2 linked regions of the Homo sapiens genome follow. The protein of the gene in region 2 purifies or fractionates together with the protein of the main gene of each other region. This does not show direct contact. Each region holds a gene or a part of one and is shown on either strand. Other genes may lie near its edges. The genes, in order: ATAD3A and AFG2A.

Region 1 (15,454 bases), on a different chromosome or scaffold from region 2:
GTTTTGTTCCTAGAGGGGAACTGACACAGGTCGATGTTTGGGTGTCGTGGGACAGAAGTACGTATTCTCTGAGCTGCTGAGGCCTCAGCATCAGGTCTCAAAATTTTCTGGGATGACAGTTTTCCCATCATAAAACTTTACCATAAAAATCTTTTGGCTGGGCGCGGTGGCTCACTACTGTACTCCCAGCACTTTGAGAGGCTGAGACGGGTGGATCACTTGAGTCCAGGAGTTAGAGACCGGCCTGACCAATGTGGTGAAACCCCATCTCTACTAAATATACAAAAATTAGCTGGGCGCAGTGGCGGACGCCTGTAATCCCAGCTACTCTGAGGCTGAGGTGGGAGGATGGCTTGAACCCCGGAGACAGAGGCTGCAGTGAACCCAGATCGCACCGCTGCACTCCAGCTAGACAGAGAGAGACTTAAAAAAGAAAAATCTCCATCCGGGCCAACATGGCGAAACCCTGTCTCCACTAAAAAGACAAAAAAAGAGCAGGGCACAGTGGTGCACGCCTGTGATCTCAGCTACTTGGGAGGCCAAGGCTGGAGAACTGCTTGAACCCAGGAGGTGGATGTTGCGATGAACCGAGGTTGCACCACTGCACTCCAGCCTGGGCGACGGACGGCAACTCCATCTCAAATAAATAAATAAACATATAAATCTGCTAACACAGAAAGACACGTAAAGTAGGCAGGGACCCCCGATGCTCCTGGGTTGGTGCGTTGTTCCCGTCTCTCTTCCTCCCGCAGCCCGTCTCACTTTTTTAAGCCTTCAGAGTCAACTGCAGCAAACACGTCACTAACTAGAGCCCAGCGTCTGTTCTCAGCTCAGGTGTAATTTTTGGAGGTGACTGACGCAGGGGGAAGTGCCGTGGGGAGCACTCGTTGCATTTAGACAGAGGCAGCGACGCTTTGGTGTTGGGGTGGGTCTGCTTGGGCCTGTGGTTAGGCACGAACTGGGCTGACGGGCATCAGTGTCAGATTTCAGGAAGCGCCTTGGTAGCTAACCTCGGGGGCCCCAGTGAACAGAGCACAGATGAGACCGGGACCTGCCTCTCAGGGAAGACAGTGCCAGGTCAACGGGTTTGGCTGCTAAGCTCGGGAAGCCAAGGGCTGAAGCGACCCCGGGCTCTCAACCACTCTCACTCTGACCCCGAGGGGACTGAGGGTGTGTCAGTCACCCAGGGTCCTGCCACAGAGCAGTGACAGGAACGTGGGTGTCACGGTGAGGAGCTCTGCCTGTTTCCTCCCGAGGGGACCTTTGGCTGGATTAAGCTGAGGCCACTCCCTCCCCTGAAAATGGCTCATTGACAGTTCCTACCCCCAGTGACTCTGGGGAGGAGGAGAGGGGAAAGAGCAGGTCAGGTGCCCGTGTGGCCTCTCGGTTATTAGAGTGAGAACAATCATTCACCACTTTGGTGTGACCCTGTGCCAGGGACGTGCGTCCCAGCGCGTGAATTCACACCCACAGGGCACGAGGCTCTCCTCCAGGCACCCCCTCTGTGGAGTGCAGGGCGAGCGCTGGTGCTCACAGACAGTTCTGGGATAATGTACTGCTGTGACTTCCAAGGACAGGCCGGAGGAGGGGTCAGGGCACTCTGGGAACCAGGCGGCATGGGGCTATAGCCTCAAGGGACAGAGGAGGCAGTCGGTGAGGAGGAGCCGCCCGTTTGCCTGGAGAGCAGCAAGGACAAAGCAATGGGCTCCGGCCGAATCTCGGCGACCCGCTGCCAGGAAAGGGGCACGGAGGAAGCCAGGAGCGTCGGGAGGGGCCGGGCTTGCAGAGGGGCTACCAGGCAGAGGGGCAGGGCAGGGGGCACCCGGGGAAAGGGGGCAGTCAACTCTGGAGAAACCTCTCTCACCTGCCAGCAGTGAGGCCAGGAAGGAGGGAAGGGATCAGAATGAAAGAGCCCACACCTGGAACACAATCCACAGGAAACAAAAGCCTGATGGAGGGCTCCCCACGGTGCACCTGGAGACCCTGCCCCGGGCCCCGCTCCACCACAGAGAGGGCAGACCAAGGCACTGGCAACGCCGGCAGAGCGGACTGCGGGTCAGGAGCTCCGGGGCCGCCAGGACTGGAGCAACTCAGAGGCACAGGTCTGCACTATGGGGAGGCGGCCTGAGGCTGCTCAACCAGGCCTGTACCACTGCAGGGGGCCGCAGGCTGATCACTACGATTCAGCTTCTGGAAGTGGGAGAAGTTTCAATCTCTAAGTGAAGTTAGCGGGTGAAAACCCCCAGGAACTAGGACACAAAGGAACCCTCCAAATAAGCCTGCAGCAAGAAAGTCAGTCACCAACATCCGCTGTCCTCCGAGGTGCCCTGAAGTCCAGCCCTTGATTCCCATCCTAACCTGATGGTTAAAATTACCGAGGAAGGCCATGAGCAGCGGCTCACGCCTGTCATCCCAGCGCTTTGGGAGGCCGAGGTGGGCGAATCACCTGAGGCCAGAATTCAAGACCAGCCTGAACAACATGGTGAGTGCTCACACCCTGAGGGCCTTGGGTCAGGGGTTTACTCAAGCTGAGCAGCACGGCCTGGCCTGTGGCTTCACAGACCTCGCCGTGCAAATGCTAACGTCTTCCAACAAGAAGTGCAAATCTGCTAGTCTCGTTAGAATCAAGTAACTCTCAAATACGCTTCCCTTGTTACGTGGAAACTGCTAGCAACCACCCAACAAACCCATCTACCCATCTGGCCACGCCTTGGCCTGTGCCACGTGGAGGCGGCAAGCGCAGAAGGATCCCGCACGCTCGGCGGTAACTGAAGACCACGGCCAGCCCCAGACCCTGACCCCTGTAACCTATGAGCGCCACCTCCGCACCGCTTTCCGCACCTGACCCGCTCCTGACAGCTGCAGAGGTGCAAACGGGTGACGGAAAGAGTCCGATCCTCCCGGCACGCGACACGGCTCCGGCCGGGGGTGCTCCGGGGGCGCAGTCTCGCCCGGGAAGTGGCTGCCGACAGCGGCGAGGAGCGGCAAGGGCCAGGGCTCCCGCTTCCCCGGCCCGTCCCGCCCGCCCGCCCGCGCCGCCCCGCCCCGCCGCACTCACGCGAGTGCTCCAGCTCGCGCGCCGCCTTGGCGGCGCGCTCCAGGCCGGTGGGGTCGAAGTTGCTCCATTTGTCCTTGGGCGCCGGCCGGTCTCCCAACCCGCGGTCCCCGCCGCCCTCGGCCCCGGGCTGCGCGGGCGGCAAAGGCGGCGGCGGCCCCGCGCCTTCACCCTTGGGGCCCTTGTTAATGCCGAAGAGCCACGACATGCTCGCACCGCCGCCGCCGCTACCGCCGCCGGGACCCCCACCCGAGTCTGACTCGCGCGCGGCTGGGAGCAGCCTCCACGCGCCGCGAGCCGGTGGTCACCGCCACTGCGCAGGCGCCACACACACCCCTTCCTCCCGGCGATAGAAGCGCGTAAGGGACACGCGCGCAGCCCTTGGATTGGCCCCGAGGACAGTGACGCCATAGCGACGGCGCCGCGACTGCCGAACAGGCTTTGGGAGCCAGCGGGGCGGGAGCGGCGAAGCATCTGGCTACGGGAGCCACGCCGGGACAAAATTCCCGAGGGACGTAGGCGAACCCAAGGCAGCGTCAGCCCCGCGCCGCATCCGCGTGGGCTCCGTTGCTAGGGGCTCCGTTGCTAGGGGCTCCGAGGAGTTCCGGCCTTGGCGGCAGCGGGTGGCAAGTTTCCAGGGAGCCCCAAGGTTCTCGATCCGTGCGGCGGGGCGCCCTGCGGTGAGTCCAGGACGCAGAGAAGAGTCTCGCGGGAACCTCACCCGAGGCGGCACCGGCGCCCGGGCAAGCCGAGCCCTTCCGCGATGAGTCGGCGCCCTGGGGTCGCTGCGCCAAGAGCTCAGGAGAGGCGCCTCCCCTCCTCGGTGTCTCCGCAGCCCGCACGGCCCTCCCGCCCAAGACCCCGGGGCGACCCCTTCCCGCGTGGCGGGGCCAGCGAGCTCCTCTTGCGGGGCGTGGACGGGGCCGGGGTGCCCGGGCAGGCGCCGCCCCGGAGCCCACGGTCCACGCGCTCCCAGCGGCCCTGACTTTCTCCTTGATGGAACTGGTTGACTTCACGGAATATATGGAGTGACTTTTCCCACTGGATTGGAAACTGTTTTAAGCCTGAATAATGTTAGATACAATGAGTTCTAAACTTCCCTTCAAAGAATCAGTATATCAGTATGTTCAGTCTTTGTCCTGCATTTTAAAGTCTACCTTCCTCGCAGTTTCAGTAAACAACCTTTTCCACCAGTTCTAGTCAGTAGTTGACATCTGTTGCCCTGGTCACCTGCTCCGTCCTAACTAATCCCGGTCTCCTGCTTTGACCTGAGTCACCTTTAGTTACCTGTCCCATAACCATTTTTCCCGCCAAACCACTCACCCCGCCACTCTGGCCCATACTCCTGCTCCCTTTAAAATAGCCAATGGGCACTAGTTTAGACTGTGCATTCTAACCCTAGCCAATAGGGGAACCACACAGCAGTAGGGGCTACCCGCGTCAGGAATAAGAACCCCTTCCCCTCCCTTGTCCAAGCGCTCGCCATTGCTCCATCTATGAGATGTCCCCTTCTATAGAAGTAAATTATCTAGCTGAGAAAAATTTATATTCGAGTTCTACTTCTTTGGCGGCACAGAAAATTTACATATAACACAGTGAGCTGCCGAGATCTCGTCACTGCACTCCAGTCTGGGCGACTGAGTCAGACTCTGTCAAAAAAAAAAAAAAAAGCCAGAAAATGCCGGCCAGGCGCGGTGGCTCACACCCGTAATCCCAGCACTTTGGGAGGCCGAGGTGGGCAGATCACCTGAAAACAGGAGTTTGAGACCAGCCGGGCCAACATGGTGAAACCCCTGTCAAAAATACAAAAATTAACCTGGGCATGGTGGCGTGCGCCTGTAATCCCAGCTACTCCGGAGGCTTAGGCGGGAAAACTGCTTGAACCCTGGAGGTGGAGGTTGAAGTGAGCCGAGATCAGGCCACTGCACTCCACCCTGGGCGAGCACGACTCCATCGCCAAAAAAAAAAGAAAAGAAAAAAAAAAGAAAAAGAAAACAGGGCAGGCGCGGTGGCTCACGCCTGTAACCCCGCCAGTTTGGGAGGCCGAGGCAGGAGGATTGCTTGAGCCCAGGAGTTGGAGACCAGCCTGGGCAACAAAGAGAGACCCCGTCTGTACCAAAAAAATAGGAGAGGAGGAGAAAAACCAAATGACTTCCCCAGCAATAGCCAGACGTCCCCCCACCCCCACCCCATGGCTGTAATCAAGGTTTTGGTTATTTATTTATTGAGAGGGTCTCACTCTGTCACCCAGGCTGGAGTGCAATGGTGCGATCTCAGCTCACTGCAACCTCTGCCTCCCATGCTCAGGCGATCCTCCTACCTCAGCCTCCAAGCCAAGAAGCTGGGACCACCGGCATGTGCCACCTGGCCCTTTTTTTTTTTTTTTTTTTTTTTAGAGGGAGTTTGACTCTTGTTGCCCATGCTGCAGTGCAATTCCATGGTCTCAGCTCAGTGCAACCTCCACTTCCCAGGCTCAAGTGATTCTCCTGCCTCAGCCTCCTGAGTACCTGGGATTTCAGGCACTTGCCACCACGGCCGGCTAATTTTTTTTTTTTTTTTTTTAGGAGAGATGGGGTTTCACCATGTTGGCCAGGCTGGTCTGGAACTCCTGACCTCAGGTGATCCACTCTCCTTGGCCTCACTGAGATTCCAGGCGTGAGCCACCGCGCCCAGCCCCATCATCAAGGTTTGCAGGGACTAGCTGCAAAGCGCGGGCAGGGGCGGCATCTATTTGAAGCCGCTGTGTCTGTTTCGCGTGCACTTCCCTCCACCGTGTGTCTGGCCACAGGCAGCTCTGGCGGAGGGGAGGGAGGCGAAGGGCACCCGCGTATGCACGGCCTCAGGATGGGGCACGGGCACCCGGCCCTGCCGTGGCAGGCACCTCCTGTGCAGCCCACCCCTCTGTGGTTAAATCCTCCAGAAAGCCCCAGCTTCTGCCTTTTCTGTCACCTTTGACCCCAGGGGGACGTTAGGGGGCCCCAAACCCCGCCCCAGCCAATAGACACAGCGGTGCGGCCCCCGTGGGACTTTATTACGGGGAGTATTTCCTAAATGTGCGGGGCCGCAAAGGCAGGGGTGGGAGGGGTCCGCGGCCAGGCTCCGTGAGGTGTGGTCTCCCCATGGACTCAGGATGAGGGTTGCTCGTCCTCGGGCCCAGGCCTCCCCCTCTTCAGCCAGCGCATCATCTGCTGGTGCTGCTGGACAGCATCTTGCACGCGGGTGTCCATCATGGCCTCGGTCAGGACCCCGTCCTCGGAGGCATACGCCGTGGCCTAGTGGGGAGAGAGGGAGCTGAGGGAGGCCGCCATGGGAACCCCCCACCCCAAATGCACGCCAGGGCCCCGAGGTGGGGAGGGACCAAACCAGGGGCTCCAGGATGGCCTGAGCGTGAAACACAGGCTTCCCGCACCTCGGCAGAGCCCAGCACGTGTGTGGACACCGGGGGCAGCCCCTGCAGTGCCCACAGCCCTGCCTGCGTCCTCAGCACTGCTGTTGCTCAATGACTTTCTAATAATAGAAAGCCCAAGGCGGAGCCTCACTGACGGCCGACCCAGGGCAGCTTCCGAGAGGCAGGTGGGAACTGCAGACCCTCTGCGTGTCTCAGCCGTGGCCAGGCAGTGCCCCCGGGTCATAGTGCACCTCAGACCCTCAGACCCTGACCCTCACAGGCCTCCAGGGCAGAGGCAGCCACTGCCCACCTTGAGGCACGTGGCTGGTGGCACCAAGGCCACCCCTGCCCCACCTTCCTGTCCTCCTGGGCACAGGGCTTGGCATCTAGCATGTGAAGGCTGGAGCTGCTGGGGCTGTGGCCCTCGGTGTCGCTTCAGGCAGCCTCAGGTCCAGCCTTTCTGCCAGACAGGTCACTCTCCATCCTAATGCCAGAAAAGGGCATGGAGTCCCCAAAGGGAGTCACCCGTGGGTCAGGGTCAGGGTGTGGGGACCCCCACTGGGCGCCGTGCTCAGGAGGGCACCAGGACGCCTGGAGGAAGCACAGGGCAGGGGACCCTTCCCGGACAGCTGAGCGGGTCCCTAGCCCCATCCCAGCTATGCCTCCCAGAGGCAGGATTCATCTCACGGGGTGCAGGGGCAGCAGCACACCATCCTCCCACAACACCGTCGCCACGATAGAACCTGCCATGGGGATGACCACGTGGTGCCCGTCCCCTCTGCCAGCGCCCATCCCTCGCCAAGAGCCACTGTGTGGGGAGACACTGACCGGAGCTGGACCACCACTGTGGGTCAGGGGCCCAGGAGCGCAGGAGACACTGACTGGAGCCGTACCGCCACTGTGGCTCAGGGGCCCAGGACTGCTCAACATCATTTTTGGTCTTGAGCCCACCCAAGAGAGGGCAAACAGGTGCAGGGACCCTCAGGGTCCACCCGAGTGGCTGCACCTCACCCAGGGCCCAGCAGAGGAAAGGGGCTACGCAGATGCTCACGGGGCCACCCCTCTGGGAAGCACGGGACCTGGCAGGAGCCCACCAGAAGTGACAGCTAAATGTCACGTGGCCTCCTGGGTGGGATTCTGGGGCAAGACCCAGTCGCGGGTGGGGCCAACAGTGACACATGACGTTCACCACGTGGCGAGGCCCCAGGCCCGGGAGCTCTCTGTGCTACCCTTGCAATTTTTCTGGGAACCTAAAATCTCCAAGCTGTAAAAGTTGAAAGAGAAGACCTGGACCTGATTTCTTCACATGTGAATTCACAAAACATTAAGAATCAGAGCACTCCTCAAACTCCTGGACAAATTGAAGAACATTTCCTCACTCATCCTAGGAAGCCAGCAGTACCCTGATATCAAACCCAGATGAAGATGCCACAAGAAAAATGACAGGCCAATATCCTTGATGAGCATCACTGGGAAAGTCCTCAACAAAATGCCAGCAAAGTGAATTCAGCAGTATAATAAAAAAATTATACACCCTGACCAAGCAGGATTTATTCCTGGAATGCAAGGATAGTTCATACGAAAATCATGTTCCACATACGAAATGTTCAACATACAAAAAGCAATCAATATTAGCAGAGTGGAAGAAGGAAACCACATGACCCTCTCAACTGACGCAGGAAAAGCATTTGACCAAATTCAACACCCTTTTATGAGAAAAACACTCAACAAGCCAGGAATTGAAACACACGCCCTAAACATAATGAAGGCCATATATCACAAGCCCACAGGTGACATACTCAGTGGTGAAAAACTGGAAGCTTTTCCTCTGAGTAAGGAACCAGGCAAGAATGCTTTACTGCTTCTATTCCACATACCACTGGAAGTTGTGGCCAGGGCCATTAGAGAAGAAAAAGAAGTCATCCAAACTGAAAAGGGAGAGGTAAAATCACCTGTTCTCAGATGATATAATCTTATATGTAGAAAATCCTAGAATCCTGCTGGGCGCGGGCGGTGGCTCACGCCTGTAATCCCAGCACTTTGGGAGGCTGAAGCGGGCAGATCACGAAGTCAGGGGATCGAGACCATCCTGGCTAATATAGTGAAACCTCATCTCTACTAAAAATACAAAAAATTAGCTGGGCATGGTGGCAGGCGCCTGTATTCCCAGCTACTCAGGAGGCTGAGGCAGGAGAATGGCGTGAACCCAAGAGGCGGAGCTTGCAGTGAGCCGAGATTGTGCCACTGCACTCCAGCCTGGGTGACGGAGCGAGACTCCATATCAAAAAAAAAAAAAAAAAAGAAAAAAGAAAATCCTAGAATCCATATTGGAAAAAACAACCCCGTGACATCAGCAAAGTTACAGGAAACAAAATCAACAGCAGAAACAGCTGCAATTCTACATACTAACAATGAATAATCTGAAAGGGAAATTATGAAACCATTTCCATTTACAATAGCATCTGAAAGAATAAAATACTTGGAAATTCACTTAACCAAGAAGGTGAAAGACTTGTACAATGAAAACTGGCCGGGCGCCGTGGCCCACGCCGGTAATCCCAGCACTTTGGGAGCCAAGGCAGACAGATCACCTGACGTCATGAGTTTGGGACCATCCTGGCCGACGACTGCACTCCAGCCTGGGTGACAGAGTGAGACTCCATCTCAAGAAAAAAAAAAAAAGAAAACCAGACAACATTGCTAAGAGACGTCAAGGCAATATAGAGACTGGATGCAATCCCTGTAAAACCCGAATTATTTTTTACAAAAATAGAAAAAGCATTAATACGTTGATATGGAACCTCTAGGGATCTTGAATTGCCAAAGGGAAAAAAAAAACTTATTTTATTTTTTTGCGAGGGAGTCTCACTCTGTCACCCAGGCTGCAAGACAGTGACACGATCTCAGATCACTGCAACCTCCACCTCCTGGGTTCAAGTGATTCTCCTGCCTCTCAGCCTCCCAGGTAGGTAGGATTACAGGCACACACCACCATGCCTGGCTGATTTTTGTATTTTTAGTAGAGACAGCGTTTCACCATTTAGGCCAGGCTGGTGTCGAACTCCTGACCTCAGGTGCTCCACCCACCTTGGCATCCCAAAGTGCTGGGATTACAGCCATGAGCCACTGTGTGTGGGTGGCAAGCCAACCAGGTGCTGAGGCAAGAGACCGAGGGCACGAGCTGTTCCAGTGTAATAAAATATATAAAATAGGAATAGTTATACCAGATATAGATCTTAGATATGATTATATATGAATATCATTCATCATTAGTTTGTAGCAATTGCTCTTTATTCCAATATTATAATAATCCTCGCTCTATAATCATAATCTAGGAAAAACCAGGCCATACCGAGATAGGAGCTGAAGGGACATAGTGAGAAGCGACCGGAAGACAAGAGTGCGAGCCTTCCGTTACGCCCGGACAGGGCCACCAGAGGGCTCCTTGGTCTAGCAGTAACGCCAGCGCCTGGGAAGGCACCCGTGACCTAAGCAGACCGTGGTCTAGCGGTAGCGTCAGTGTCAAGGGAAAACACCCGCTACTTAGCAGACTGGGAAGGGGAGTCTCCCTTTCCCCGGGGGAGTTTAGAGAAGACTCTACTCCTCCACCTCTTGTGGAGGGTCAGGCCCGCCCACAGTTATCCGAAGGCCTAACCGTCTCCCTGTGATGCTGTGCTTCAGCGGTCACACTCCTAGTCCGCCTTCACGTTCCATCCTGTACACCTGGCTTTGCCTTTTAGATAACAGTAGCAAAATTAGTGAAAGTACTAAAAGTCTCTGATAAGCAGAAATAATGGCGTAAGCTGTCTCTCTCTCTCCCTCCCTCCCTCTCTCTGCCTCGGCTGCCAGGCAGGGAAGGGCCCCCGTCCAGTGGACACGTGACCCACGTGACCTTACCTATCACTGGAGATGGCTCACACTCCTTATCCTGCCCCTTTGTCTTGTATCCAATAAATAACAGCGCAGCCTGGCACTCGGGGCCACTACCGGTCTCCACGTCTAGGTGGCAGTGGTTCCCCGGGCCCAGCTGTCTTTTATCTCTGTCTTGTGTCTTTATTTCTACACTCTCTTGTCTCTGCACACAAAGAGAAAACCCACCGAACCTGTGGAGCTGGATCCTACAACTGTGCCTGGCGCGCACACACACACACACACACACAAACTGTTGAAGGACAAAGTTGGCACTGGGCGCGGTGGCTTACCACCACCACTGTGAGCAGTGCAGGATGAGCATCCTTGTAAGGGACACCAGAGTGAGAGCTCAGTCACTCTCTCCGCCACATGAGGACCCAGCAAAGAACACTCCACAGGGAGGGACTGAGCTGGCACCCTGACCTTGGGCCTGTAGTCTTCAGAGCTGTGGGCACACACGCCCCAGTGGTTATGGCAGGCCCAGCAGTCGACCACACTCCTGTTCTCTCTTTTTTTTTTTGTTTTTGAGACAGAGTTTCCCTCTTGTTGCTGAGGCTTCAGTGCAATGACGTGGTCTCGGCTCACCGCAACCTCCGCCTCCCAGGTTCAAGTGATTCTCCTGCCTCAGCCTCCTGAGTAGCTGGGATTACAGGCGCCCGCCACCACGCCCGGCTAATTTTGTATTTTTAGTAGAGATGGGGTTTCTCCATGTTGGGTCAGGCTGGTCTCGAACTCCCAACCTCAGATGATTCGCCCACCTCGGCCTCCCAAAGAGCTGAGATTACAGGTGTGAGCCACCGCACCTGGCCTTGCCAATTAAATTTTTAAGCTACAATGCCCACAACAGGCAACATGTGAACCCCGCCTGTGAACTCAGGACTGAAAGTGAGGGACCAGGCACTGTGGCTCACGCCTGTAATCTCAACATTTTGGGAGGCCGAGGCAGGTAGATCCCTTGAGGTCAGGAGTTCAAGACCAGCCTGGCCAACATGGTGAACCCGTCTCTACTAAAAATCCAAAAATTAGCCGGGTGTGGTGGTCGGTGCCTGTAATCCCAGCTACTTGGGAGGCTGAGGCAGGAGAATCACTTGAACCTGGAAGGCAGAGATTGCAGTGAGCCGAGAACGCACCACGACACTCAAGCCCGGGCAACAGAGCAAGATTCCGTTTCAAAATAAATACATAAAATAATTAAAATGCAATGCAATGCAATGCAATGCAAAAAAAATTCTGCTGAGTGAAAAGAAATGAGGTGAGAATGTCAAGAAGATCCCCATCCTCCGGACAACCAGACGCCCTCACCAACACTGGCCCTCCCTCTCGGGAGGCTCTGCGGCACTGTCTCTCACCTCCCCTTGTTTCCTTCTGTGAAATGAGGCGCCCAAGCTCGGCCCTGCACCCCACTGCTGCCCATGTACATGCCACCAGCCCTACCCACCGGCAGTAGCCCTACCAATCTCCATGCCCGAACCCCATGTGCGCCCCGGCCTCCCCACCCACACCGGCCCCACTCACTTTGAGCTTGGACTGTTGCTCCAACTGCAGCGTCTGCTCCTGCATCTGTGCCACATTCAGGGCGTCCTTTGATGTGGCCTGCAGGCACAGGGGCACAGAGGGCGGGTGTTAGGATACACGGATGCCGCTGGGCAGGCACCACACCAGCCAAGGGGCTTTCTGGAATCCACGGCCACGCCTCGACCTCAAAGCCCCCAGCCCTGCCTCCCCATCCTCCTTCCTAGTCAGACCTGGCGTGACGATGCCCCATCCCCAGCACACGGCCTGATGCATTTGTGAGGTTTTATGCCCTCCAGGGATGGTCTTGGAGAGCCACATCAGGAAGGCCATCCCACGTGGACGGGAGGAGGCTCTTGCCCAATTCAACACAAAGTCAGGCGATGGGTAAAGTGTCCATTTTATCATGATACATATGCTTTTACTTTTTTTTTTTTTTTTGAGACGGAATCTCGCTCTGTCGCCCAGGCTGGAGTGCAGTGGCGCTATCTCGGCTCATTGCAAGCTCCACCTCTCGGGTTCGTGCCATTTCTCCTGCCTCAGCCTCTGGAGTAGCTGGGACTACAGGTGCCCGCCACCACGCCCAGCTACTTTTTGTATTTTTAGTAGAGACAGGGTTTCACCCTGTTAGCCAGGATGGTCTCGATCTCCTGACCTCGTGATTCACCTGCCTCGGCCTCCCAAAGTGCTGGGATTACAGGCATGAGCCACTGTGCCCGGCCTGATGTGGCTTATACATTTATATATATATATATTAGACTGAATGAAGTCTTATTAATAGCAAAGGATAATGAAAATCCCAAACTCGCAAGGTTTTCAACAAAAGTAAAGTTTGCTATAAGTTATCAGTGTAGGCCGGGTGCGGTGGCTCATGCCTGTAATCCCAGCACTTTGGGAGGCCGAGGCGGGTGGATCGCCTGAGCTCAGGAGTTCGCGACCAGCCTTGGCAACATGGTGAAACCCGGTCTCTACTAAAATACAAAAAATTAGCCGGGCATGTCGGCCTGTGCCTGTAGTCCCAGCTACTTGGGAGGCTGAGGCTGGAGAATCACTTGAACCCGGGAGGCGGAGGTTGCAGTGAGACAAGATCGTGCCACTGGACTCCAGCCTCAGCGACAGAGCATGACTCTGTCTCAAAAAAAAAAAAAAAAAAAAAATGCTGGGCACGGTGGCTCATGCCTGTAATCCCAGCACTTTGGGAGGCCGAGACGGGTGGATCACGAGGTCAGGAGATCATCCTGGCTAACATGGTGAAACCCCGTCCCTACTAAAAATACAAAAAATTAGCCAGGCGCGGTGGTGGGCGCCTGTAGTCCCAGCTACTAAGGAGGCTGAAGCAGGAGAATGGCGTGAACCCGGGAGGCGGAGGTTGTAGTGAGCCGAGGTTATGCCACTGCACTCCAGCCTGGGCGACAGAGCGAGACTCTATCTCCAAAAAAAAAAAGAGAGAGAAAAAAAAAGCCAGAGTAAATTTAAAACCTATACTAGAGGCCAGCGGTGGCTCATGCCTATAATCCCAGCACTTTGGGAGACCGAGGCAGGCGGATCACCTGAGGTCAGGAGTTCAAGACCAGCCTGGCCAACATGGTGAAATCCCATCTCTACTAAAAACATAAAAACTAGCTGGGCATGGTGGTGGACGCCTGTAATCCTAGCTACACGGGAGGCTGAGCCAGGAGAATTGCTTGAACCCAGGAGATGGAGGTTGCGGTGAGCCAACACAGTGACACTATACTCCAGCCTCGGCGACGAGTGAGACTCCATCTCAAAAAAAACAAACAAAACAAAACAAAACAAAAACAAAAAAAAACTTACCCAAAGGCATGGAGGCCACTGACAACTATCCTTAATGTAGTAACCCACGGACTGCCGTAGTGCATTACGGGATGACACTTATTTGAAGATAGTTACTTCCAGGTGATTCAAGGAAAAAGACAATGAGTAACTAACAGGAAAAACTCTTGTGGAAATAGAGGCCAGGCTCTGTGGCTCACACCTGTAATCCCTGCACTCTGGGAGGCTGAGGCAGGTGCATCATCTGAGGTCAGGAGTTCAGGAGCAGCCTGGTCAACATGGTGAAACCCTGCCTCTACTAAAAATACAAAAATTAGGCCGGGCACGGTGGCTCACGCCTGTAATTCCAGCACTTTGGGAGGCCGAGGCGGGCGGATCACGAAGTCAGGAGATCGAGACCATCCTGGATAACACGGTGAAACCCCGTCTCTACTAAAAATATAAAAAAATTAGCTGGGCGTGGTGGCAGGCGCCTGTAGTCCCAGCTACTCAGGAGGCTGAGGCAGGAGAATGGCGTGAACCCGGGAGGCAGAGCTTGCAGTGAGCCGAGATCGTGCCATTGCACTCCAGCCTCGGTGACAGAGCGAGACTCCGTCTCAAAAAAAAAAAATACAAAAATTAGCTGGGCGTAGTGGCGAGTATCTGTAATTACTACTCAGGACGCTGAGGCAGGAGAATCGCTTAAACTCAGGAGGTGGAGGTTGCACTGAGCCGAGATCACGCCATTGCACTCCAGCCTGGGCGACAGAGTAAGACTCCATCTCAAAAAATAAAAAAATAGAGTTAATAAAGTTTCCTAATAATTGGTCTGCTCAAGCATGTGAGCTGTTTGCACTCAGCCAAGCCTTCAAGTACTTACAGAACCAGGAAGGAACCATCTATACCAATTCTAAGTATGCCTTTGGAGTGGCTTTTGAGAGGAGTCTCACTCTGTCGCCCAGGCTGCAGTGCAGTGCCGCAATCTCGGCTCACTGTAAGCTCCGCCTCCCGGGTTCATGCCATTCTCCTGCCTCAGCCTCCCAAGTAGCTGGGACTACAGGCACCTGCTACCACGCCCGGCTAATTTTTTTTTTGTATTTTTAGTAGAGACGGGGTTTCACCCTGTTAGCCAGGATGGTCTCGATCTCCTGACCTCGTGATCCGCCCGCCTCGGCCTCCCAAAGTGCTGGGATTACAGGCATGAGCCACTGCGCCCTGCCTGAAGTGGCTGATACATTTATATATATATACACATTTATATATACATTTATACATATATATATATATTAGACTGAATGAAGTCTTATTAATAGCACAGGATAATTTTTTTTTTTTTTTGAGACGGAGTCTCGCTCTGTCCCCCAGAGACTGGAGGGCAGTGGCGCAATCTCGACTCACTGCAAGCTCCGCCTCCTGGGTTCACGCCATTCTCCTGCCTCAGCCTCCTGAGTAGCTGGGACTACAGGTGCCCGCCACCACGCCCGGCTATTTTTTTGTATTTTTAGTAGAGACGGGGTTTCACCGTGTTATCCAGGATGGTCTCCATCTCCTGACCTCGTGATCTGCCCGCCTCGGCCTCCCAAAGTGCTGGGATTACAGGCGTGAGCCACCGCACCCGGCCACAAAGGATAATTAAAATCCCAAACTCCCAAGGTTTTCAACAAAAGTAAAGTTTGCTATAAGTTATCAGTGTAGGCCGGGTGCGGTGGCTCACGCCTGTAATCCCAGCACTTTGGGAGGCTGAGGCGGGTGGATCGCCTGAGCTCAGGAGTTTGCAACCAGCCTTGGTAACATGGTGAAACCCCGTCTCTACT
Region 2 (16,078 bases):
TCTTCTCTAGAAAGAAATAAACATTTAGGAAGCAATTTATAAAACAGAAGCAGCTTACTTTATTTCGATCTTGTACAACCAGTATTTTTCTAGTACTTTCATCAAATACAGCTCCTATTAGGGGAAAAAGAAAAGATAATTGAGAAATATTAATTTCATTCACCTTAATCTCCTCCCACACTCTCTATCTGTGGTGATAAAAATTCTACCCATACTTGAAGCCTTGGTTCAAATACAGGTTGAGTATTCCTTATCTAAAATGTTTCAGAGCAGAAGTGTTAGATTTTTCTGGATTTTGGAATATTTTCATATACATAATGAGGTATCCTGGGGATAGGACCCAAGTTTAAACATGAAATTCATTTATGTTTCATATACACCTTATACTCATAGCCTGAAGGCAATTTTATACAATATTTTAAATAATATTGTGCATGAAAACAGTTTTGACTGCATTTTGACTGTGACTTGTCACATGAGGTCAGGTATGGAATTTTCCACTAGTGGCATCATGCCAGTGCTCAAATACTTTTGGATTTTGCAGCATTTTGGATCTTAGATTTGTAGATTGGGGATGGTCAAGCTGTACCACCACCTCATCCATGAAGACACTAAGTGCCTGTCTTAGTCCATTTGGGCTGCTATAACAAAATAACCACAGACTGGATAGTTTATAAACAACAAACTTATTTCTCACAGTTCTAGAAGCTAGGAAGTCCAAGATCAAGGTGCTGGCAGATTCAGTGTCTAATAAGGGCTCATTCTTTACAGACGATGCCTTCTAGCCCTGTCCTCACATAGTGAAAGGGGCAAACAAGCTCCTGTAGGCCTCTTTCATAAGGACACTAATCCCATTCATGGGAGCTCTGCCCTCATGATCTAGTCACCTCCCAAAGGCCCCACCTCTTAATACCATCACATTGGGGATCAGGTTTCAACATATGAATTTTAGGGGGAACAAACATTCAGACAACAGATGTGCTTACAATATTTATTGAATAAATGAATTGACTTCTCATTTTTATTCCTTGAATCACTATGCATACAACACAGGCTGTGCCCCCTGATGATCCAAATCTCAAATATCTCAATATTCATTTCAAGACCTTTCTGAAGCCAATTAAATTTTCTTATTATGTATATACACAACTTTATAATCTACTAATATACTGCTTTGGAAGAGTTCTTTGTTTTATATATGTTTTAAGTTCTAGTTCATTTTTTTTTGTTTATTCATTCATCATACACATTGCATATTCTCTCTTTCTTTTTAAAAATATTTCCCTTTGGGCAATCTTGGGTCAAAAATACAAATGACGTATTAGTGATTTTTATTATGATCTTTTAGATGTTATGATTTAAACATTACTTGTATTTAAATAATGTGGGATGACATTTTTTAAAAGATACTTTCTACATATTTGTCCATGCTTTCAGTATTAACTGAGTTCCTCTATATAATGTACATAGATCCTGTGCATATTAATTGAGCTCCTACTATGTGCCAGGCACTTTTCTAGGTGCTACAGATACAGTGGTGAACAACACAAATGAAACTCCCTATCCTTATGGGGTTCACATTCTGGTATGTGTGTGGGGAGGCGCCAAAACAAACAAAAAATAAATTATATAGAATATTAGAAGGTGATAAATGCTATGTAGAATATAGAGAAGGAATAAATATGTGTAACATGGGGAAAAGTAATTGAAATGCAATTGAAATGAAAACACCACACTTGACTATTTTAAAGCAGGAAGGAAAATCACCAAGTGAGATATAATTAACATTAATGTTGGCTTCTATTAGAAAATGTAAGCTATAATTTAACTGGACTTTACAAGAGGTAGACTGCCAAAGAAATGCCAAGGAAACTTACTCTTAAATTTTAATAATTTGTGGTTACTCAAATTGAACTTGTCCCTAATGAATTCACTGTAAACATGAGCACAGTATCAGAGACAAAACCAGCACCACTAAAGCACAATTTGAGCGACCTCTGCTGGTCACAACATAAAAATTATTATTATGATTAGGCACTGTGCTTCAACGTACATTAGCTCAGGTATAAGTCACAATAATCCTGTGAGTGATATGAGTGTCTGGCTTCATATAGCTCTAACTGGTAGAACTGGGACTGATAGCCAGTCTGTCTGGATTCTAGGCAGGCACACTCTTCTCACTGTGCAATGCTGCCCCTCAACAATACTGAAACTTCTCTCTCAGAAGACTCACATTTCCATCCCATTCATTAAAAAAATATTGAATATCTACTTTATGTCACTCGCTGTCTTTAGCTTGAGGATATCGTGGTGACCAAGACAGATAAAATATCTGCCTTTATGGAGTTTATATTATTGTGGGGGAGATTAAGTGATACAATATAATTAATTTACATACATGATATAATAGAGTTTCAGACTGTGATAAATGCCATAAAGAAACATAGAGCTGGATAAAGGGACAAGGAATGATGGCACTAGTGTGCAGGGAGAAGTCACTTCTAACAGAAGGGTCAGGGGCTTTTCTGAGAAGGAGACACTTGAGCAGAAACTTCGGCTATGAAGAACTAGATAAAGAAAGTTCTGGAGAAGCATGCTGCAGGAAGAGGAGCCAGTAGATGTCAAGGCTCTGAGTCAGACACAAGCTTGCTAAGTTTGAAAAGCAAAAGAAAGCAATGGCTCCAGCTATTCCAGCCACATCTGCCTTCGGTAGTTTATAACAAATGCCAATTATTTTTCTTTCCACCTAAAAACTCTGCACCCCAGCCTGGGCAACATGGCGAAACCCTATCTTTGCAAAAAATACAACAATTAGCCTAGCATGGTGGCGCATGCCTGTAGTCCCAGCTACTTGGGAGGCTAAGGCAGGAGGATCACTTGAGCTAAAGAGGTGGAGGTCGGAATGAGCCCAGATCATGACACTGCATTCCAGCCTGGGTGACAAAGTGAGACCCTGCCTCAAAAAAAAAAAAAAAAAAAAAAAAAAAAACAACTCTGCACCTTTCCAGAACAATTTCTTACATTACCTCGTCCACACCCCCAACAGTGGCTTCAAATCCTAGTTAGTGTTCAAGATTGGTCAAGTTCTGCATCTCTTATTCTTTGAACTGCTCTGACACTCTAAACTATAATGTACAATATACAATATAGTACTTAGTTATCAACAGGCCCTTCATAGGATACTCTTTTTGCATATATTACCAATTCTGTAGTAATAACTGGGAACTCTTAAGAGTCTGTGCCCGTGAATGATAATTATTTGCATAACTTTCCATTGAAGTGTGAGGCTGTCACTAAATTATTGAGTAGAATCTTTTGAAATAGAGCTGAACGGAGAGTTTCTGAATGTCTACTTGCTACAGGGAAGTAAGACAGGGACAGAGAAGACATCATTAGGCATTCTTGAACAACTCCTTGAAAAGCCTTGAAAAGCAAACTACCTTAAAAACTCTTGTAAATTATATAAAGGCAAATAAAATTATTAATTAAATAACTAATATGCTTCATTGCTTTCATTTATTAAGGTCATAAGGATCCCTTACTATTATAGTTTTTCTAGAAATCTAAGAATTTTGGTCCTTAAAGGGTAGTACTGAGACCACCACCAGCAGCAGCAGCAGCAGCAAAAACAGAAACAGCCAGGAAGATCACCTGAATTTTCAGGTCCCACCATAGACCTACTGAATCAGAAACTCTGGGGATAGGGCCCAGCAATCTGTTTTAAGATTCCAGGTGATTTTGATGCAATCTACAATGTGAGAATCTGTGTCTTACTCTGAGGGAAGTCTTCTCTCAACTTTCCTATGTCTCTGAAGCTAATCAGCCACTTCAAAATTCTACTCTACACTTAAATTACACGATTTTAAACAACTGTTTGGCACAATAATGTAAATATTATTAAGAAGTAATTGTTCAAATCATTGAAAAATTGGTTTGCTTTACCTGAAATTCAACATAAAAATGATCATTTACTTTACAAATTTACATAATTAGTGCCAACATGTTTTACTCTGCAATAAATTTATTCCCTGATCCCAATTCAGTGCTACTATTTGAGTAGTGAAGTTTAATTATATGTGTAAAATATATTCAAGCATATCCTTTGGAAAACTAAACACTAAAGTTGTTCTCTGTGCGTCTGTCTACTGATTGAGGCAAACTTCATCTATTTAAAAGCACTATGTAATAGTCCTATTTAAAAGCACTATGTAATAGATACTGTAGTCCCCCTTGTCCAGTTTTGCTTTCTGTGATTTCAGTTATACAAGGTCAACCATAGTCTCGAAGTGTTACATCACTACTCTTGTGCTTCGGGGCATTAATAAGGAAAATAAGGGTTATTTGAATCCAAGTACTGTGATACTGGGACAGCTGATCTGATAACAGGGAAGGCTACTAAGTAACTAATGGATAGGTAGCCTATGGATCATGGATACACTGGATATGGGGAAGATTCACGGCCTGGTGGGACAGAGCAGGATGGTGAGAGATTTCATCACATTACTCAGAACAGCATGCAATTTAAAACTTAAGAGTTTTTTTCTGGAATTTTCCATTTAGGTCATAATGCCTGTCATTCACCTCACTTCACCTCATCGTGCAGGTGAATACAAAAGGGTGAATACAAAACAATATTTTGAGAGAGACCACATTCACATAACTTTTATTACACTATACTTTTATAACTGTTCTAATTTATTGTTAGTTACTGTTAATCTCTTACTGTGCCTAACTTATAAGTTAAACTTTATCATAAATATGTGTGATAGGAAAAAACATGGTATATATACATAGGGTTTGGTACTATCTGCGGTTACAGGTGCCCACTGGGGGTCTTGGAACACATCCTGTGCAGATAGGGTGGAACCACCGTAATCATTTAATCAAATAACTCATTCCACATGAATAAACTATTTGCTTAGCTGTAACAAGCAAGAAATTGGGTGAACGTCTAAAAAGTTAATTCTGCTCATCATGAGTTTGAAACTGACCTGCAACTCCTACTTGATGTGAAGCATATCCTGGTAATCTGCTGGGCCCTTCTCTCAGCCACAGAGTCAACGTTGATGAATCCGATTCTGCGTGGTGAAAGCAGAAGCCCAGGGAAGCAGCAGGGGCAATAAATCGGCTTTGGAGGATGGGAATGTGCAGCCATACAGCTGTTCTACCTTCTGATCGCCATTGCTGTACTGCAGCTAAATGCAGAAGAAAAAAGTCTAAATAATTTCCAAAGAGACGAGTGGAATAAATTAAAACTCACCTCAGGGTTTCGCCTCCTCCAGGAAACCATCTTTAAGCAAAAGAGGTCCCCAAATGTCTTGTTCACATCGCTGGCACTGGAAGTACCATGTTTTATAGTAACCACCTTGTTTATATGATTTTTCCATCAGACTGAATTCCTTCAGAATAAAGTCATTACACTGCTGACCTTTATATCCATACCACCAAAGACAATGCTTGGCACGTAACAGATGTTCTGTAGTTTTAGAGTGGACAAATAAAAGGATTTAAACCGAATCAAATACCATTTGAATGCTGTTCCTTTTAACATCCTTAGGTTTAATCTTAAAGACAATTATGGACTTCTATTTTTTTCTTCCTTTAGGAGTTCTGTTATAATGTTTTTAATGTATAAATTTCAAGGTAGTTAAACTTTGTTTTTAAATAATGTATGCTGGTTGTAGAAATTTTGAAAATAAAAAATATGAAGAAATCAAACTTCACATTTTACTAGCATATAGGAATAAAATTCTAATTTTTCCTTATTATAGATAATATCATGGTGAACATAATTATAGGTTTTCTATCTTTGCCTTCTTTAAATTCTCTTTACTACTTAAGATTGAGCCAGGGGAAAAAGATGCTAATATCTATTTGAAACTTACTAAGTTCCAAGCACTTTATATATATTATCTCATTAAGTGCACAACCATGAAAGGTATTACTACCTTAAGTTTATGGGTGAAGAAATAAATACTTCAGATTTAGAGTTTTTAGAAAAGCTTTTCAGATCACTTTCTTCATCCATCATCTCACTTAATCTTTATAATAACGCTATAAAGCGTGTGTGTGTGTCTGTCTTTGGGGGTTGATTATATATCAAATAGTTAATTAACTTTCCCTTCTCTTTTCCCTAGCTCTGCAGGAAGCTCCTCTCTTTAAGGACAATGTTCTCTACCTCTTTGAAAGTTGCTGTGCCTAGCACAGTGACAGGCACATGGGGCCTTTAATAAAGACTTCCTGATTTGAGTTAGCATGCAGTGGAATTATGGGATCAGGTCCTTCTCACCTTGCTCTCTTTGTCTGATGACATCTTTTAAAAATTGAGGTAAAGTACATAAAGTGAAATGTACAAATCTTAAGTGTACATTTCATGCGATTTGACATATGCATATGCCCGTAACACACTTTAACATTATAGAACATTTCTATCACTCCATACATTTCACATGTGCTCCTTCCCAGGCAATCCTTCCAATCAAATTAAAAGGCTACTTTCTAAAAGCAATGCTATTTGCTTGCTGTTTTATATCTACACTCTGTGTCTTGGAGAATCCACTCTCACTGCTTCAGCTGATACATACATGAGGATGGCTGCCCAGCCCTGACCTCACTGAACACTAAACTTTCTGTTCTCCAGTTGCTCCCAGACATTTCCTGTCCTGAAGGTTACCACTTCAGACTTCACAAAGTGTGTTCAAAACTGAATCTTTTGTTGTTGTTGTTGAGACGGAGTCTTGCTCTGTCACCAGGATGGAGTGCAATGGTGCAATCTCGGCTCACTGCAACCTCTGCTTCCTAGGTTCAAGCGATTCTCCTGTCTCAGCCTCCCAAGTAGCTGGAATTACAGGTGCGTGCCACCATGCCCAGCTAAGTTTTGTATTTTTAGTAAAGACGGGGTTTCATCATATTGGCCAGGATGGTCTTGATCTCTTGACCTCGTGATCTGCCCGCCTCGGCCTCCCAAAGTGCTGGGATTATAGGCGTGACCCACCGCGCCTGGCCAAAACTGAATCTTACACCCCAAACTAGCTTCATTTATAAGCTTATTTATTTCTGGCACCAATGCTTGAAACCTTAGAATCATTTTTAAATTGCTTTCTTCTTTTCCCTAATAAGCTTTATTGCTTTTTCTTCCCTCACCTCCCATTCCCATTGCTAATATCTATCCTTTAAAGTCCAGCTCATATTCCACATCTTTGACCAGTCTTTCCTAACCACTGCTCATGAGCTCACCATTATGAATTTAAAGACTACTATGTCTGTACAATTTATTAGAACTTATTACATATGACCTAATGATATCTCTTCCATTAGCTATTTTTTCCAATTCTATTTAATATTCCATGCATTTGCAATCCTCCAGGGTAACCCTACATTATGCACTGGGGCTCAATTTGTACTAATGAAATGACTGGCTTGCCTAAAGTCACATAGCTGGTGAGTGGCATAGCAGGGACCAGAACCAGTGCTATTTCATTACTGATGCAGATATGTTATGTGTGAAGCTAACAACATATTGCCTGTTTATCCCTCTAACTTCAGTTGTTGGTAACAAAACATCAATAGTTCATGTTCTAAAAGAATATGAATAGTTGACTTCTTATTCCACCAAGAATATGGACTTCTTAGTCCATAAAGACTAAGAATAGCGGACTTCATGTGTAAATAGTCTCTCTTTATAGGCACTACCATTCAGTTAGTTTTGTTCAATTATAACAACAGAACCAGCAGGAGTTCTTCAAGGTAGCATAGTGCAGTAAGAAAGGTGTAGAGCCAGGGCAAGTAAATTTTTCTCTCTGTGCCTCACTACTGTCATCTTTAAAATAGGAATAATAATGCTATCTACCTCAAAGGGTTGTTAGGAGGATTAATTACTATTTATAAAGATCCTAAAACATCTACCATTAAGTGCAACAAAATTTGTTTTATTGAAAAAATATAACAAGTATTTGGTACTTAAGTTTACAAATTAGTTTCATCTTTGATCAACGCATCTATCCAGTAATTAGAGCTGGCGTTATTCACAAAAAGCAAGCTAAGAAGCAAATATTTTTGGTGGCAATTTGCCTAATGCCTGGCTAAGCACATGGCAGAACCTGGTACTTAAACCCAGAATGTGCACCTCCAAATCGCACAGCTTTCTGCTTTGTCATGCTGACTGGGGTAGTGCTTTGATCACCTGTTTGGTCATTGATAAGTATCAGTGGGTACAACACCTGTGTCTACCCACACACTGGAAGATAAAACGATTGATTCTCCTATTAGTGACACTGTTGCAGTATAAGCGGGCTTGTCAGCAATTACTAGCAAGTAGGAGAGAAAATAATGTGAAGAGGTAAGAAGTCTGGGAATGAGGATGAGTAAACATTGAAATAACTAGCTCAATTATATTTACAGATATGCTTCTTGCCATATTGCTCAATAGGATAAAGATTATTTTGAGTTTCCAGTGTGAGAGATTTTTCCATAGTTGAATTTGCATGCTATGCCTTCAATTAGATTATAAAACCCTCAGAGGCCGTTTGAAAAACTGCTGCACCACTAAATCGACTTCTTCCAAAGTGAAGGCTCCTCCATCCAAGCTTTCTTATCATTGGGCTCAAGGTTGAAAGCCAGTAAAAAGTTTTCTTATTGAAGACTGAAACCACCCACCACCGTCCCTGGTTAATCATAAAAGAAGCGTTATTCTAAAAAACTCCAGTTCTCGCTGAGACAGCTGTTGACCCAATTTGTATACAAATGTGACACTCTGAACCTCTCTGGTTTAGTATTTGATAGCCCAACAGGGTGACTATATTCAATAAAGATTCAGGCTGGGTGCAGTGGCTCCTGCCTGTAATCCCAGCACTTTGAGGGGCCAAGGCGGGAGAATCAGTTGAGCCCGGGAGACTGAGACCAGCCTGGGCAACACAGTGAGACACCGTTTCTAGAAAAAATAGAAAAAAGCCAGATGCGCGCCTGTAGTCCTAGCTACCCAGGAGGCTGAGGTGGGAGGATTGCTTGAGCTCAGGGGTTGGAGGCTGCAGTGAACCCTGATCCTACCACTGCACTCTAGCCTGGGAGACAGAATGATACCCTCTCTCAAAAAAAAAAAAAAAAAAAAAAACAAACTGTACATTTAAAAATAACTAAGAGTAACTGGATTATGGTTGAATGCTTGTGGTGATGAGTATCTCATTTACCCTGATGTAATTATTACACATTTATACCTCTATCAAAATAGCTCATATACCCCATAAACATACACACCTACTATGGACCCACAAAAATTAAAAATAAAAAAGAAAAGCCTCTTTGGTCCACTCAGTCCACCACCCGTATTAGAATGTAAGAGTTTTTTTCCTTGGGAAAAGTGTCCGACAGAACCAAGGCTCGGTAAAGGATACTAATAATGTAATAATATAATATTAACAAACATCTACTGAGCTTTAAATACGTGGCAGGCACTGTGCTGTGCACTTTATGTGCATTATCCAAATTAACTCTCAGTAATTCCAGGAGTTCTTATCACCGGGGTCTGTGGAAGAGGAAATGGTGGTTTACGGCAATTTCCGAATGTCGCACAGTAGAAAGTGGACCAGCAACCAGGGTTGCAGATCCCAAAGTCCGGGATCTTCACCATTTCACCCAACCGCCTTAGAGACCTCCCAGCAAAAGGTCTAAGCACGAATGCTCCAGAAAACAGGTCCAGGTCACGCGTGCCTTCTCCCTTTCCCTCTGGGCTCGACAGTGGTGCACAGAGCGACTAGGGAGTGGGGGCCGCGGTTATTTCATTAGAAAAGCTCTGGAGCCCCGGGAGCCCTTCGTCCCAGGCGCACTTGCCCTGCAAGCCCTTCTGGAAGGCGGCAGCGTCCAGGCGGTCCAGCGCATCGAGCCGCGCCAGGCGCACCGAGATGCCCCCGAATCTGTCCAGCTCGCCCTGCAGATCGCACGCTCCAACTGGCGGATTCCGCACGTAACCCTGTGCGCCCGAGGCCCAGCGGTAACCCGCCGAAGGCCCGGGGCCGTAGGTTCGGGCAAGCATCGCGCGCCAGCGGCCCCAGCTCAGTGGCTGCCGCATCTCCACGCCGCTTAATTCGTCCGTTGCCCAAATGACCCCTCCGCGCTCCAGAGCGGAGATCGCGGCCGTACATTTTAGAAGAGTGCCATCAATACCCTCAGAGTTGAGCTGGGGTTACCACTCTGCAGAGCTATGCCAAGGAGACCGCGAAGTGGTCCACCAGCCCTTCTCAGCAATTTGCCCCGCTCCAGTTAAGCGGGGAAAACCTCCTCCCCCACCGCCACTCACTTATTTTGTTTGGTAGTTTAATTCAACAGACGTTGGTTTAGGGATGGGGAAGCCGGGAGGAGATGCAAAAACGTCCTGTTTTTCAGGAATTTACAATCTAAGTGGCAGTTCCGTTCCTGGAACCTATCTTCTTTCACAGATGCCGTTACAGCTGTTTCAAAGACTGCTGGTTTTGAAAACGCTCAGTCCCTCCCACCACGCTGTGCACTGCTGCGCTCCACTCAGGGGATTACGGCGCAGGGGCGGACCCTCGCTGACTTCTGCCCCGGAAGTTTTTCTCTCAGTTGAAGCGCGCACATTGAGTCGGCTTTTCTACTGCTTCGGCTAGGGTACCTTGTGACCATGTCTTCCAAGAAGAATAGAAAGCGGTTGAACCAAAGCGCGGAAAATGGTTCGTCCTTGCCCTCTGCTGCTTCCTCTTGTGCGGAGGCACGGGCTCCTTCTGCTGGATCAGACTTCGCGGCAACCTCCGGGACTCTGACGGTGACCAACTTATTAGAAAAGGGTAAAGAATTCCGGGTGGGAGACTAGAGGCCGAGGGGGCGCAACCTGAGGGGCGGGAGACTCAGTGATACTGACTTGGGGTGCAGAGACTTTTGAAAGTTGGGCGTGGCATGGGTCTGAGAGCGGCACAGAAGCGTGTAAGACTTCTGTATGTAAGAAGCATGCAAACGTAGCCGCGCCTGCACTGGAGAAGTTAGGCTGAAATGGTTTATCCGTGTCCAAGGTTTCTCTTTTGTAAATTATTTTGAATTTTTAAGTTGCACTTGAAACGCTTTGTCTCATTTAACATTAACGACACATTTAATTGCAAAATTGTTCATAACTAGCGAACATGGGATACTTATCCTAAAAAACTAAATAACCAATTCAGTAAAAATGTGGATCACTCTGCCTTTAGGAGTGATGATAGCATTTTCTTCCAGTACTACGCAGGTTATGATATTTAATAACTGCTAGTAACTGCACACTAGTGTTAGCAGTATATATAGCTCATCTAATTTCTACAGAAGCCGTGACCGATGGGTATAGTAATGACAGTTTTATAGAGGGAGGAAAGTTAACGTGATTCCATTCAGGCTACACAGGTGCTAAGTGGCAGAGCCGATATTTGAGTCCAGATGTGTTTGACTTAAAAGCCATTCCTAGATGACAGCTCCTTTGATTTGGGAGAACGTATTTATACTGAAAAGTCTTATAAATTGAATTAAAAATTGAAAATTTATATTTGATGTGTAATAGCTTTGAAAAATGGACCAGACTAGTGGCAAAAACTTTTATGTCTAATCAGACCTTAAAGACAATTTAGAGTTCACATGGTATTTTCACTCTGCCTTAGGTATCAGAGGACAACTTGTTCTGTCCTGAAGGTTCAACTTGTTTTTGAACTAGATCCTTCCCATTGACATGTAAACATGCTCATTTCTCTTCCATCTTAAATCAGAACAAAAGCTCCACATTTTCTTCCTGCAACCGTCTCTCTATCCATTGCCAAGCTTCTTAAATGGAGTGGTCTCTGCCGCCTCACCACTTACATACTCTCCCTAGCCTATTCCTCTTTGACTTCCACCCCATCATTCCATGGAAACTGTTCCTGGTGTGGTCTCCGAGCATCTCCGTGTTGATAAACCTTACGTGACCACAGCAACTTTTGGTATTGTTGACCATTCCCTCCTTCTCGAAACACTTAACTTCTTATGTGTTGTCAAACTTGCCTGGTTTTCTTCATCTTTGTTGATGTTTCATCATTTTTCTTTGCAGGCTCGTCCTCTTCCCTTGACCATTAAATGTTGAAGTTCGTCAATTCTTAGTCCAAAACCTTTTTTTTCCTCTCAATAAATCCTGTCTCCTTGGCAAGTTCATCCAGTGCCCAGAGTTTCCCATCTATAGTCTCTTCAGTGTCAGATTTATATTTGTAAATCTTTTGTTTTTGCGCCTTGATGTGGTTGCCTTTTAGCCAAATGCTTCTCAAGCTCTCTGTGGTGAAGACTTTAAAATTTATAATAGGTCACAGATCAGCACTTTTCTAAAATACAGTAAAAATGATTTTCTAGAAAAATAAGGAAAAATTTTTATTAAACAGATGTGAAATTACTCTGTAAATTTCAATAAAAGCTTCTATATACTTATTCTCCTGTTTTGTACTTGTCATGAAGCAGTAACAAATCGTTGTGGGTCATATTTTGAATAGCACTGTACAATAACTCTTCTCATGAGTGTCCCAAAGATACTTCAGGACTAACTTCATGAGCCCGTTATTTCCTCCAACAAAATAAACTTCAACTCTGTTCAGTTTTTCCCGCTGCAAAATTCAGAAACCTAAGAGTCATCCATGACTCTCCCCCCCATATCTCACATACCTAGTCCACCACTAAATCATGTTTATTACCTAAATATTTTACATATTCCTCTTCTGCATGCCATTCCCACTGTTTCTACCTTAATTTCAGACACCATCATCTCTCACCTGGACTGCTACAACAGCCTTTTGACTGATTTTCCAGCTTCCAATTTTGCCCCTTATTCCTTTTCCATTCTGCAGCCAGAATGATCTTGTAAGATGAAGATCTTGTCATGACATTGCTTTTCATCCCTTTCTGGGCTCCCACTGCTGTCAGAGTAATGACCAGCATCTTGATGCAGCCTATTGCACTATTGTCCTGGGTGGTCTTGACCTTCTTTACATGGCTTCCCTATGTCTCCACCACTCTGCCTATACTCTCCTGAGGATGCGCCATACCCCCTTCTGCCCAGGAACTTTGTACATGCTGTCCTCTTTGCTGAGAATTATCTTTTTCTTCTCCTCATTTAGTTAGTTCCTACTCTTCTTTCAGACCTGATCTTAACATCACTTCCTTTGAGAAACATTCTCTTATTTGAAATTAGGTCAGATCCCACATGGCTCTCCTGGCACTCTAAGTCATTTTTTCATTGTATTAATCTTAGTTTATTATTTTACAGCTATCCACTGATTGTTTAATAACTCACTCATCCTACAAGGCTATAAACTCTGTGAGACCAAGGACTTGTGAACAAAAGTGCCTAGCATAGTATCTTTCATATAGTAGGCACATAGTACATATTTGCTGAATGAATAAATGAAGGGTGGATGGTTGTTTGAAATTATCTTTACTATCTTGTTAGTTAATGTGATACTTAAGGTGCTCAATAAATGTGAAAGTAGTTAATGGGGAAATTAGATGTTGACATATTTTTAAAGTATTGGAGGAGTGAGGTGAGAAGGGAACTGTGTGGACAACTTGAGTAGACCTATATAGTGTAAGCAGAGAACACGTTGGTGATGTTTTGGAAAATGAGACCAGTGGCTGGGAATTTGAACATGATTACCATTGAAAGACAAGGTGGAGAATAAATCCTGGGACATGGAGAATGTGCTGGATAGGGTGGAAGGAGAAGAAGAAAACTAAAGTCTTGGGAAGGACTGAGAACACTTGTGTGGTAATTGTCAAGAGGGAAAGATAGTTCATTGAGGTTTAGGAAGAAAGAGGCAGGAACTGAATATTATGAGATCATCTAACAGCAGTATGCTTTACTGTTAATGACCAGCAAACAATGTAAGAGAACTAATGCTCATTGGAAGGTTGAATTTCTGTCCAGCTTCTTGTATTATGCAGTATGTGTTCATTTCGTTTTATACTCAGTGCTGTTCATCTTAGCTCTGTGAGATGCTTTGTTTTTCTAGATTTGCACCTCATATAAGAAGGAAAAGAAATGTGTTGGGGAGTTGTTTTGTAGTGACAGAATAATGTAAATCATATGGGTACCTTATGGTTTTCCTTTCCTTGATTTAATTTCTTTTTTATTACAGAATATCTGTTTTCTGATTATTAAGGAAAACTTAGGTAGAGCTCTGTGATTATGGTATATATGTTTACAATAAATTTTATAATGAAGTTGTGACATTTTTAAATTCTCTAAGTGTTTCATAGATTTTGTGCTGAAAAGAAAACCATTGTATACTTATTTACTACATTTATTCATTTTATGGCTATTTATTGTGCAACTGCTATATTTAATGCACTGTAAGCATTGGAGATACAGAGAGAAATAGGACCCAATTCCTGCTTCAAAGCAGTATACAATTAAGGAGAAAGACTAAAACAAATGAATATTATGGTAAATGCTATTAACTGGCAGCACAGAGTGCTGGAGGAATTAGAGGAGGGACACCTAACTAAATATGGAGCTTGGTGGGGGTGGGGTGGATAGAAAGGAGTGGAGATGACAGCACATCATTTTCAGAGGTGTTGTTAACTGGCCTGAATTCTGGACCCCCTTTTTCAGCCAAAAGTTGAAATCACTAGTGGTGTGTGTTCGTATAAGGAAGACGACTTCTGTTACTCTCTTTACGTATTCTTGGTAATACAAAAGAAAAAGATCTGGTGACCATAATGTGGGGCAGAAGTAGAAACATAACTTAATCCTCTAGAGCCAGATAGATGTGCCAGTTCCCAGTTCAATCCTTTGAATACTAGTAGCTGACTCAACTTTGAACTTAAAGCTCAGAGACTCTCTTTTGCAATTATGTTTACTTCTTAATGAAATTAGAGACTCAGAAAAAAAGAAACCAATACTCACCCCATAAAACATCTTCTTTTTAGTTAATACTTAATATGTTGCCAGTAGACCCTCAAAAGCATTTGATTTTAAATCTGTTTTGTTATAACAAAAGTTGGAACACTAGTTTCTCCAGGGTATGGTAAGTACATTCATGTGGTTATATGGTTAGAGTATTTTTATTTACTGCAAAAGAAAGCATGCCTTAACTTCTGTTACAAAGTAGTACAAAAATAATTTTCTTTTCCTTCATAGTAGATGACAAAATTCCTAAAACATTCCAGAATTCCCTTATTCATCTTGGACTCAACACTATGAAGTCTGCAAATATATGTATAGGTCGACCAGTGTTGCTTACTAGTTTGAACGGAAAGCAAGAGGTAAGAGTCTTTTTCATTTCCTTAGTTTAGAAATACAAACTGAACATTGCAAATCCAAGAATCTAAACTCTGAAATGCTTTTGAGTGCCATGGTAGTCAAAGGAAATGCTCATTGGAACATTTTGGATTTCAGATTTGGGATGCTTAGCCAGTAAACATAAGGCAAATATTCCAAAATGGAAAATTCAAAACGCTCCTGGTCCCAAACATTTTGGATAAGGGATACTCAACCTGTGTTTGAGATGTTTCTGATTTTAATTTTCAACACAAGCAGGAATAAATGAAAAACTGTATTTTAAAAGACATTAACATGTATATTAACTCTGTTCCTTTGCTGTCTATGACTCTGCTGGGCATAGTAGCCCCTAAAATGTTATGTAGAGAGAAGTGTTGCCTCCGGCGATAGTGACAGTATTTCTCCCTGTCAGTTAGTTATATTTCTTTATAAAAATATTATTTTGGGGGTAAGAAGGTCACCTGTTCTGTATATAAATATTTTACTATTCTCCCTTGTTTCAGCTGTTTCTCCTTGCTGTCATTTTTCATACCTGAGATTCTAAGCCTGGAACCTTTCCTGGATCATTTTTGGCAGCTTGGCTTTCTTTTCTGCTACCAGCCCCTTATCTTTCATGGCTTCCTTTGATGCTTCTCTGATTTGCTGGGGATCCTTTGGAAATACTTTGAAATTTTTTGTCTGCTGATGGCACCCCTCCTATTCTTTTCATTTTTCTGGCTTATGCTTTAAAGGTCCTTTACTGTGTCTTTTAGAAGAGAGGACTATAAATGTGTGAGCTTAAGCTAGAAATTTTCGCTCCTCCCTCTTAACATT

Evidence for each region.
Region 1: the proteins of AFG2A (region 2) and ATAD3A purify together in Homo sapiens (affinity purification with mass spectrometry; 2 studies listed by BioGRID and IntAct, with this or other methods). This does not show direct contact.

Annotation. Positions count from the first base shown.
Region 1 is NC_000001.11:1,500,078-1,515,531, reverse strand, and holds the start of ATAD3A (ATPase family AAA domain-containing protein 3A), read right to left. Parts: upstream 3,371-15,454; 5' UTR 3,264-3,370; coding exon 3,059-3,263; intron 3,003-3,058; exon of another isoform or gene 2,842-3,002; intron 1-2,841. UniProt on the Homo sapiens protein: Essential for mitochondrial network organization, mitochondrial metabolism and cell growth at organism and cellular level. May play an important role in mitochondrial protein synthesis. May also participate in mitochondrial DNA replication.
Region 2 is NC_000004.12:122,912,510-122,928,587, forward strand, and holds the start of AFG2A (ATPase family gene 2 protein homolog A), read left to right. Parts: upstream 1-10,568; 5' UTR 10,569-10,633; coding exon 10,634-10,796; intron 10,797-15,124; coding exon 15,125-15,249; intron 15,250-16,078. Other genes in the region: NUDT6 (nucleoside diphosphate-linked moiety X motif 6), read right to left, coding at 59-114, 4,992-5,195, 9,826-10,063. UniProt on the Homo sapiens protein: ATP-dependent chaperone part of the 55LCC heterohexameric ATPase complex which is chromatin-associated and promotes replisome proteostasis to maintain replication fork progression and genome stability.